2 separate regions of the Homo sapiens genome follow, and region 2 is linked to region 1. Evidence: fine-mapped expression QTL. A gene starts in region 1. The other region holds a variant in brackets. All regions are shown on one strand. Distances are from middle to middle.

Region 1 (4,384 bases):
TCTCTTCAATAGAATCTAGCTCGTTTCTACTGAAATGCTAAATAATACTGCATAGCTTTGCCCATGTATGTGACATGTCAAGTCTTCTAATCCCCCGTTTGCCCTAGATAATTTTACGCTTTATCCATCAGCGTGCCACGCAAGATAGAAAAATGCAGTTAACAAGATGACAGTGTTACTTAGGTATTTGGCATCGATATTAGTGAGAGTCTGTCATTTCACAATTATTTCCCTAGCATACCAGACGGTAAAGAAAATGTTTTCATTCATCCGCAAATGACTAACATTTTATTGATGTTTCAAAATGCGGTTGAAACTATTGCACTCTCAGTTTCCGAGTCGGTTTTGAGAGTTAAGGCAGAATACTAACATCAGTGACTCCTGACGCAAATGTCTCCGTTAGCTGCCCAGCCTTGGAGTGCCAGTTCAGCAGGGAGGTGTTGCTAGTTAAGGATTCGTCTGTAAGCCAGTCTGGGTGGTCACAGGTGATGGGAACCCTTCCCTTTCCCCATATATCCCCGTGCATGGCGATAAAAATCACTCTGAACACTGCTACCACCAAGCAAAACGACTCCCTGCCTGCCTCGTAAAGAGCTCAGTCTGCGGAGGCAGCCGGATGCTGACCCCTGCAGAGAGTCTTGCTTCGGTGCGCTTTGCCAAATGACCCTGCTAGCATTATGGAAAACGAGTTACGGACGTGTGAGGTTTTGCTTCATTTCCTCCAAAAGAAGAACTGGGATCTGGCAAAGAATATCTTCTTCAAACACTGCTAAAGGGGGATGGGGTGGAGGAAGGGAAAAAGTGTGTGAGGGGGAGGGAGCTTATTTTTTAATTACTTATTTTCCATTTTCACTTCCCCGCTCTGCTTCCCAAACTCCTCGCTGAACAAGATTGATTGGTGTAACTGCTAACGACTCAGCCTCGGTTCTCGCATTGATTTGCAAATGGCCCGGAAAAGCTTAAGGATCTTGAATCTGGAAATGAGTTCAAGAAGGAAAGAAGAAAAAAGAGTAGGGGTGGCCCCACGCCTAGTATCTCCTTCTGCCTTGGGCCAGGGCAGGGCTGAAAACAGCCCGGCGAGCTGCGGAGGGGCTGCTGCGTGGGGAAGCGGAGGTTACCGCTCTGCACCGCGGAGGAGCAAGCCTGTTAACGCGGTGTGGAGGCTGTTAAGAAATACAACCCTGCGACTCGTTAAACCCCTTAACTCTGCCCTGCCTTGACTCGGATGCGCCGATTATTCGGCCTGATAGGCTCAAATGGGTTAAACTGCCTCTTACATAACTGGACCGCCTGGGCTCTACACAATTAAAACACTTGATTGCAGTCTTTTCCCGACTCTACATCCCAGCATGACCCGCCCCGTCCCTCCCAGCGCGCCTGCGTGCCGCGCGTGCACAGGCCCCCGCGCGCACGACACGCTCTCTATCACACACACACTCCATGTTGACCATAAACAATCCCCTACTCACACACACAACTTAGTGTCAACACCCACAGATAAAAGAGGGGCGTCCTGCAATCCATACGGGCCGACCGCCACAAACACGCAAGCTGCTCTGCCGCAAGGCCTTGCACCTCCTCGTGTCCCCGCAAAAAAGCAGCGCCCCGCCACCGTCCCTACCTATTCCCGAGAAAACGCAGAGAGAACTAGTTGGCTGCTCGCTAACTGCAGCGTAGCCACCCAGGCAAGATTAGAAGAAAATAAACAAAAAAACAACTCACAGTCGCCGGCGTCATGATGGCGCCGACCACAACTTGGAGGACTTCAAACTTACGGTGCCTCGAGAGGTAAAACGCACCGGTGAGGGAAGGCAAAGCGCCCCTCAGCTCTCTTCACCCCAGCCCTGACACGGAGACTTTTCTAGCAAAGAATCCCTCTAGCGCTTACGACAGTAAGGAGAGCCTTCATTCTAAGGTGCCTCTCTTTCCCCCTTAGTTTGCATAATTGTGATACAGTTCCTCCTATTTTTTTTTTCGTTGTCTTGCTTTTCTTTTTTTTTTCTTGCTATCTTTTTTCTTTCTTTTTTTATTATTTTTTTAATCCCCCTCCCTTCTCCATCCCCAGTCCCCTGGCGGGGTTGCTAAGGAAACGGCCGCTTGGCAACGCGCGCGAGCCCGGGAGCCGGCGGCCGGCGCAGCGCTCCGCGCTGCTTCTGCTGCTGCTGTTGCTGTTGCTGCTGCTGCTGCTGGGATTGCAGCCGCCGCCGCCGCCGCTCGCCCTGCCTCCTCCCCCGCCGCCGCGCCTCCTCCCTCACTCGCCGGCGCGCTCGCCTCCTCGCTAGATGGTGTGCGAGCCGCCCGAGAATTAGACACACTCCGGACGCGGCCAAAAGCAACCGAGAGGAGGTGTAGTGTGGTGCCAGGGGGAGGGAGGGGAGGGAGGGAGGGAAAGCGAAGAGGAGGAGGGGAGGCAAAAACACCGAAAAACAAAAAGAGAGAAACAACACCCAACAACTGGGGTGGGGGGAAGAAAGAAAGAAAAGAAACCCACCCACCCACCAAAAAAAAAAAAAAAAAAAAAAAAAAAAAAAAATCCTGTGGCGCGCCGCCTGGTTCCCGGGAAGACTCGCCAGCACCAGGGGGTGGGGGAGTGCGAGCTGAAAGCTGCTGGAGAGTGAGCAGCCCTAGCAGGGATGGACATGATGCTGTTGGTGCAGGGTGCTTGTTGCTCGAACCAGTGGCTGGCGGCGGTGCTCCTCAGCCTGTGCTGCCTGCTACCCTCCTGCCTCCCGGCTGGACAGAGTGTGGACTTCCCCTGGGCGGCCGTGGACAACATGATGGTCAGAAAAGGGGACACGGCGGTGCTTAGGTAGGAAGAACGGCGTGCTTTTCGTACTTGTTTCGGTCTATCTTTCTGTCTCTCTTTGAACCCTCTTTGCCTTCTTTATAACACAAGCAATAATGCTGGTGGTGCTCATCATGGAAAGACCACATCCCAAGAATTCCAGGTGCAGATTCTTCCCGGAGCCCCGGCCCGTTTATGCTGGGGCAGGTAGCAAGCTGGACTCGTGATGCTAAAGCACTTTGCCGGAACGCCAAGTAGCCTGGGGATGAGTGAACTGTCAGGTTTAGAAGGAGGGGCAGGTGCCACTTTGAAACTCAATGCACAAGGTCTCTGTTTTACTGTCATGGGGTACTCCTGGAGAGTCTGACAAGTTTATCAGGTTTGTTTCTATTTTACTCCAGCATAAGCGACTCTTTCAAACTGCTGTTCTCTGCTCCCATTTATTTTCCCTCTCACTTGGACACTTAGGCTCGATTTCTTGCTCTTTATCTTTCTTTCCTTTTACCGCTTTCTGTTTTCTTTCTTTTCTCCTTCCTCATTCTCTTATACCATTTTCCCCACCTCCTTGTAACTCTTTTTCCCTCCAATATCTCTTTTCATACCTTTTCTATTTTCTGTTTTTTCCCTCCTTTTTAAAATTTCTTCTCATATTTTCTCATTTTTATCTCCACGACTCTAATTTCTGTTCCTCACATTTAATCCCCTTTCCTCCTCTCTTTTACCCTTTTTTCTTTTTGTCTATTTTTTTTATTCCTCCTTAATGTCCCTATCCTGTGCCCTGTCTTCCCTCTTTTGACTCCCATTTCTCATCCCTCTCCCCATACCGTTTCCCACCCCTGTGGCACACACAGGCATGGTCACTGTTCCCCTCCAGTACCATTTACTCACCCTCATAAATCTTATTTCCATAAACATACTAACTCACATACTCTCACATCCTCACATGCACTGGCACTTCCATGCTGTAAGAACCACTTCCACATTCAGATTGTCTCTCACTGTTTTTAAAAGGCATACTCTCCTTCTCTGTTCCACATTGTCACTCACACATGTGTACACACTGCCTGTCTCACTCGCTGCTCTCACTCTGTCTCTGCTTCTCTCTTTTTCTCTTTCTGTGTCTTTCTATCCCCTTTTTATTCCTACCTTCCTCCCTCCATCAGTCTTCACTTTTACTTATTTTTCTCATTTTCCCTTCTTTCCTCTGAGCTTGAGCTCTGAGGTGGTTTGTCATTAATAAACATCCATACCCTGATTTTACCCCTAAGCAACACTGCAGAGTGGGAGTCTGGGAATATTTTATTTCCTATGAAAATATAAATGGATGATCAGCAAAGCTTAGATCTAAACAAAGCTAAACGCCCTATTCCTTCATTTCTTTCCCATCACCCTCCCTTCTCCCCCTGCCACCCCACCTCACATTTCCCTGAAAGATCTTCTTTTTCTCCACTGGGTGGTAGTTGGCTTGTAAGTCTGGCTTGCACAACATCAGTGTACATGACATGTCTAAGGTGAAAGAGAGTGGGAAATGTTTCTGTTTGAAACATGCAACATATTTAAATTTAATGATGTGGGTGTGGTATATGACTTACACCTTTT
Region 2 (4,384 bases), 88 kb before region 1:
AATAGTATATTTCTTTTCACTTAAGTTAGCAACTTCAGAAAAATTCTGAACAACAAAGTTTGAAAAATGTTTTCATCAATGGACACTTTTATACAAACACATGTTCAAACATACATACACTAAATAACTCAGACATAAGTTAGCAAACCAGAGTTTTTACTAAGTCATGATAATTTAAAAATAGATTCTTATTCTATTACCTTATCTATAAACAAATCAATTAGAATGTGTGTATGTGATGGATAAATAAATGTACAGGCCAAAAATGTCTTTGAGACTAGAGATTTGGCCTGACAATTGGAAGAAACAGAGTTTTTGTTTACTAAAATTTATAATCATGCAAAAGAAACAACTTTGAGCAAATTTGGTTGTCATGGTGGTTGCTAGATATGAGGAATCAGGAATTCAGTTCATATAAGATATTTCCTTTGCACATTCAAATGGAGATATGGAAGATGTTTTAATATAGATCTGAAATTCAGATAAAAGGTCCAAATTGGTAGTATACGTTTTAGATTCCACCTATGCCAGAGTGCAGTGGCATGATCTCAGCTCACCACAACCTCCACCTGCCGGGTTCAAGCGATTCTCCTGTCTCAGCCTCCTCAGTAGCTGGGACTGCAAGCACACCACTACACCTGGCTAATTTTTTGTATCTTTTTAGTAGAGACGGGGTTTCACCATGTTGGCCAGGCTGGTCTCAGACTCCTGACCTCAGGTGATCCACCCATTTCAGCCTCCCAAAATGCTGGGATTACAGGCGTAAGCCACCGTGCCCAGCTGCATTCTGACCTTTTAAAACTAAAGAAGAGGAAAAAGAAGGATTTAAGGAGATTGCCATGGATTGCTCTTTTGTTGGAAGGAAAACATAACCCTGTGGCAGGATTATATCTCAAAGTATTAATGTGTTTTTTGTATACATTCTTTCTCTTCAGCTCTCTCACTTTTATTCCAAGGGACAATTCATGTTCCCAACTCAGACTGAAGTAAAAAAATGGTAAAAATAGTTTGCAATGAGAGACAAAGATTCTATCTATAGATGTATAATTGTAAGGTTTAATTTTCATCTTTGTAAAACTAGGTAAGATAGTACCTGGGAAGTAAAAGAAAGAGAGCCTTTTCACACAGAATGCTCAAAAACAAAGTGAAAGAGATAGTCAGAATAGTTATTGAGGACACCGAAAGGCCTGTCCCTTCCTACTTCAATATCACTGAATGCGGGGGTTGGGTCAAGACGGCAGACTAGAAGAAAGCTCATGTGTGCTGCTCTCAGGGAGAGGAAACAAAAAGGCTAGTGAACACTGACTGTGAATGACAATCATCTGAGAAACAAGGTCAGGATAAATCAAAGCAGGAGGGAGACACTGAGAGCACAGAGGAGTGAAGCTGGGCACCAGCCTGACTGTGATCAGCGCAGTGCCAGGAGTATGTCTCCAACCTGGGAAAGGGTAAGTGACTCACAGCCCCCTGGGTGATTCATACTCTAAACAGGTACCTGTGCAAGACTGGAAATGGGTGAATACCCCTGGCCCTCCCATACCTCCAACCTCACTTCTAGAATGAGGCAGAGAGCCCCTCAAACATTTTGCAGAGGCAAATCCCCTCAAGTCCAAGGTGACTTCTATAAGTCTTGGCCCCTGGAGCAGACCAACACCAGCACCATACCCCCAACAG[A/G]GTCTGCAGTTGCAGTGCCTGGGGGCAGTAAGATTTTCCCCTCCCTGGAAAAGGCTCAATGTGGCTTCTGGTCTAGCAGGACAACTTCTCTCTGAACTCAGCCAGTGGCCACAGCCCCCTGCTGTCTGGGGAAGGAAAGTACCCAAACAGCAGGATGGGCAACCCCACCCACCCCCACCACTAGTAACCATTGAGCTTCTTGTCATTCTGGGAAGCATCCAGATGGCAGAGCAGACAACTCAACCTAACCCCACCACTGGTAGCTTCCAGCCAAATGAGCCAATTTTGCCTGAATTTGCAAAGGGTGCTGTATTAGTCAGGGTTCTCTAAAGGGACAGAACTACTAGGATAGATGAATATATGAAGGGGAGTTTATTAGGAGAATTGATTCACACAGTCACAAGGTGAAGTCCCACAACAGGCCATCTGCAAGCTGAGGAGCCAGGAAGCCAGTCCAAGTCCCAAAACCTCAAAAGTAGAAAAGCGGATAGTGTAGCCTTCACTCTGCAGCCAAAGGCCTGAAAGTCCCTGGTGAATCACTGGTATAAGTCCAAGAGTCCAAAAGCTGAAGTACTTGGAGTCTGATGTTTAAGGGCAGAAAGCATCCAGCCAGGGAGAAATGTGGAGGCCGGAAGACTCAAACAGTCTAGTCTTTCCACATTCCTCTGCCTGCTTTTATCCTAGCCACGCTGGCAGCTGATTAGATGGTGCCCATCCAGATTGAGGGTGGGTCTGCCTTTCCCCATCTACTGACTCAAATGTTCATTTCCTTTGGCAACACTTTCATATACATACTCAGGAACAATATCCAATCAAGTTGACACTCAATATTAACCAATACAGGTATAGCCTCCTCTTGCCCTGGAAACACATAGATGGCAGGGTGGGCTACTCTAGCTATCCTTGCCACCTGTAGCCAAATGGTCCACACATGCTAGATCTTCAAACTCAGTGGTCTCACTTCTGCTGGAACTCTGTGAGCAGGCACAACTCTGTTTTCTCCTGGGAAGCACTGGGAGAGCAGATTTGGGCTGACACAGTAAGAATACAGCCTGGTTGCCAACTGTGGTCCCTGCATGAAGGAGCCCCATGCACCAGAACACCCAACCAAAGAGGGACTCCTTCAAGACCCAGAAGCAGAATAGAATTCAAGCCAGTCAACTGAACCTACCTTAAACCACAATCAAGCCCACAAGGGCATCTAAGAAGATAAAAGCAAAAACAAACAAACAAACAAACAAACAAACAAACAAAAAACACCTATTCAAAAACAGCAATTTGAAAGACTGAAGGAACATCAGCCCATACAGAAAAGAAAGAACGAGCACAAGAACTCTGGCAACTCAAAAAGCCAGAGTGTCTTCTGACCTCTGGAAGATCATATTAGTTCTCTAGCAATGGTTCTAAACTAGGCTAAAATGGCTGAAATGTCAGAAATAGAATTCAGACTATGAATAAGAATGAAGATCATCAACCATCAAGAGAAACTCAAAATCCAACCCAAGGAATCTAAGGAATACAATGAAATGATATAGGAGATAAGAAACAAAATGGCCATTTTAAGAAAGTACCAAACTGATCCAATAGAGGTGAGAAACTCACTTCAAGAATTTCCTAATACAATCAGAATTATTACCAGTTGAATCGACCAAACTGAGGAAAGAATCTCAAAGCTTGAAGACCAGTTCTCCAAACTAACTCAGACAAAAATAAAGAAAAAAACAATAAAGAAGAATGAAAAAACTCTGAGAAATATGAGATTACATAAAGAGATCAAATCTGTGATTTACTGACATCCCTGAAAGAAGAGAGAAAGCAAGCAAGTTGGAGGACATATTTGAGGTTACCATCCATGAAAATTTCCCCAACCTCACTATAGAGGCAAACATTCAAATTTAGGAAATGCAGGGAACCCCTGCAAGATACTATACAAGATAACCATCCCCAAGACACACAGTTATCAGATTCTTCTAGGTTGAAATGAAAGTAAAAGTGTAAGTGAAAGAAAAAAGGCAGCTAGAGAGAAGAGGCAGGTCACCTACAAAGGGAACCTCAACAGGGTAACAGTGGATCTTTCAGGAGAAACTTTATAAACAGAAGAAATTGAGGACCTATATTCAGCATTCTTAAAGCAAAGAAATTCCAACCAAGAATATCATATCTAGCCAAACCACGCTTCATAAATGAAGGAGAAATAAGATCCTTTTCAGATAAGCAAATGCTAAGGGAATTTGTTAATACCACCCAAGAGGTCCTTAAGGGAGTGCTAAATATGGAAAGGAAAGAGCATTACTGGCCACCACAAAAACAGACTTAAGTACATAAGCCATTGACAGTATAAAGAAACCACAAAATCAAATCTGCATAATAACCAGCTAACAACATGTTGACAGGATCAAATCTACACAAATCAATATTAACCTTGAATGTAAACAGGCTACATGCTCCAATTTAAAGGCACAGTATGGCAAGTTGGATAAAGAAGGAAGACCCAACTGTATGCTGCATAAAAAAGACCCATCTTACATGTAATGACAACTTCAAGCTCAAAGTAAAGAGATGGAGAAAAATCTACCAAGCAAATGAATAAGAGAAAAATGCAGGAGTTGCTATCCTAATTTCAGACAAAACAGACTTTAAACCAACAAAGATCAAAAAAAACAAAGAATATCATTATATAATGTCAAAGGTTCCAACTCAACAAGAAAAC

Alleles and levels. Positions count from the first base shown, and alleles are read on the strand shown. Sizes are in standard deviations (SD) of each study's normalised expression.
In carriers of allele G in region 2, the expression in nucleus accumbens of the gene that starts at base 2,589 in region 1 tends to be higher than with A alone (small effect, 0.20 SD a copy in GTEx).

The links. PIP is the estimated chance that this variant, and not a neighbour inherited with it, causes the effect. A credible set is the group of variants that fine-mapping cannot tell apart.
Region 2: its variant is the best candidate, but not a certain one, in a credible set for the expression of NEGR1 in nucleus accumbens (GTEx, PIP 0.90).

What each region holds. Positions count from the first base shown.
Region 1 is chr1:72,280,744-72,285,127 of GRCh38, reverse strand. It overlaps NEGR1 (neuronal growth regulator 1), which reads left to right and starts at 2,589. Exons shown (of 7, transcript NM_173808.3): 1 at 2,589-2,809. The coding sequence starts at 2,634. It overlaps LOC105378797 (a long non-coding RNA gene), which reads right to left and starts at 2,194. Exons shown (of 6, transcript XR_947506.3): 1 at 1,723-2,194. RefSeq lists an enhancer at 1-771 and silencers at 2,153-2,242, 2,343-2,402.
Region 2 is chr1:72,368,847-72,373,230 of GRCh38, reverse strand. The region is part of intron 1 of LOC105378797 (a long non-coding RNA gene); the gene reads right to left. Among named protein-coding and RNA genes, the nearest start is that of NEGR1, 88 kb to the right of the region's middle. The variant A/G (reference allele first, on the strand shown) is at 1,675.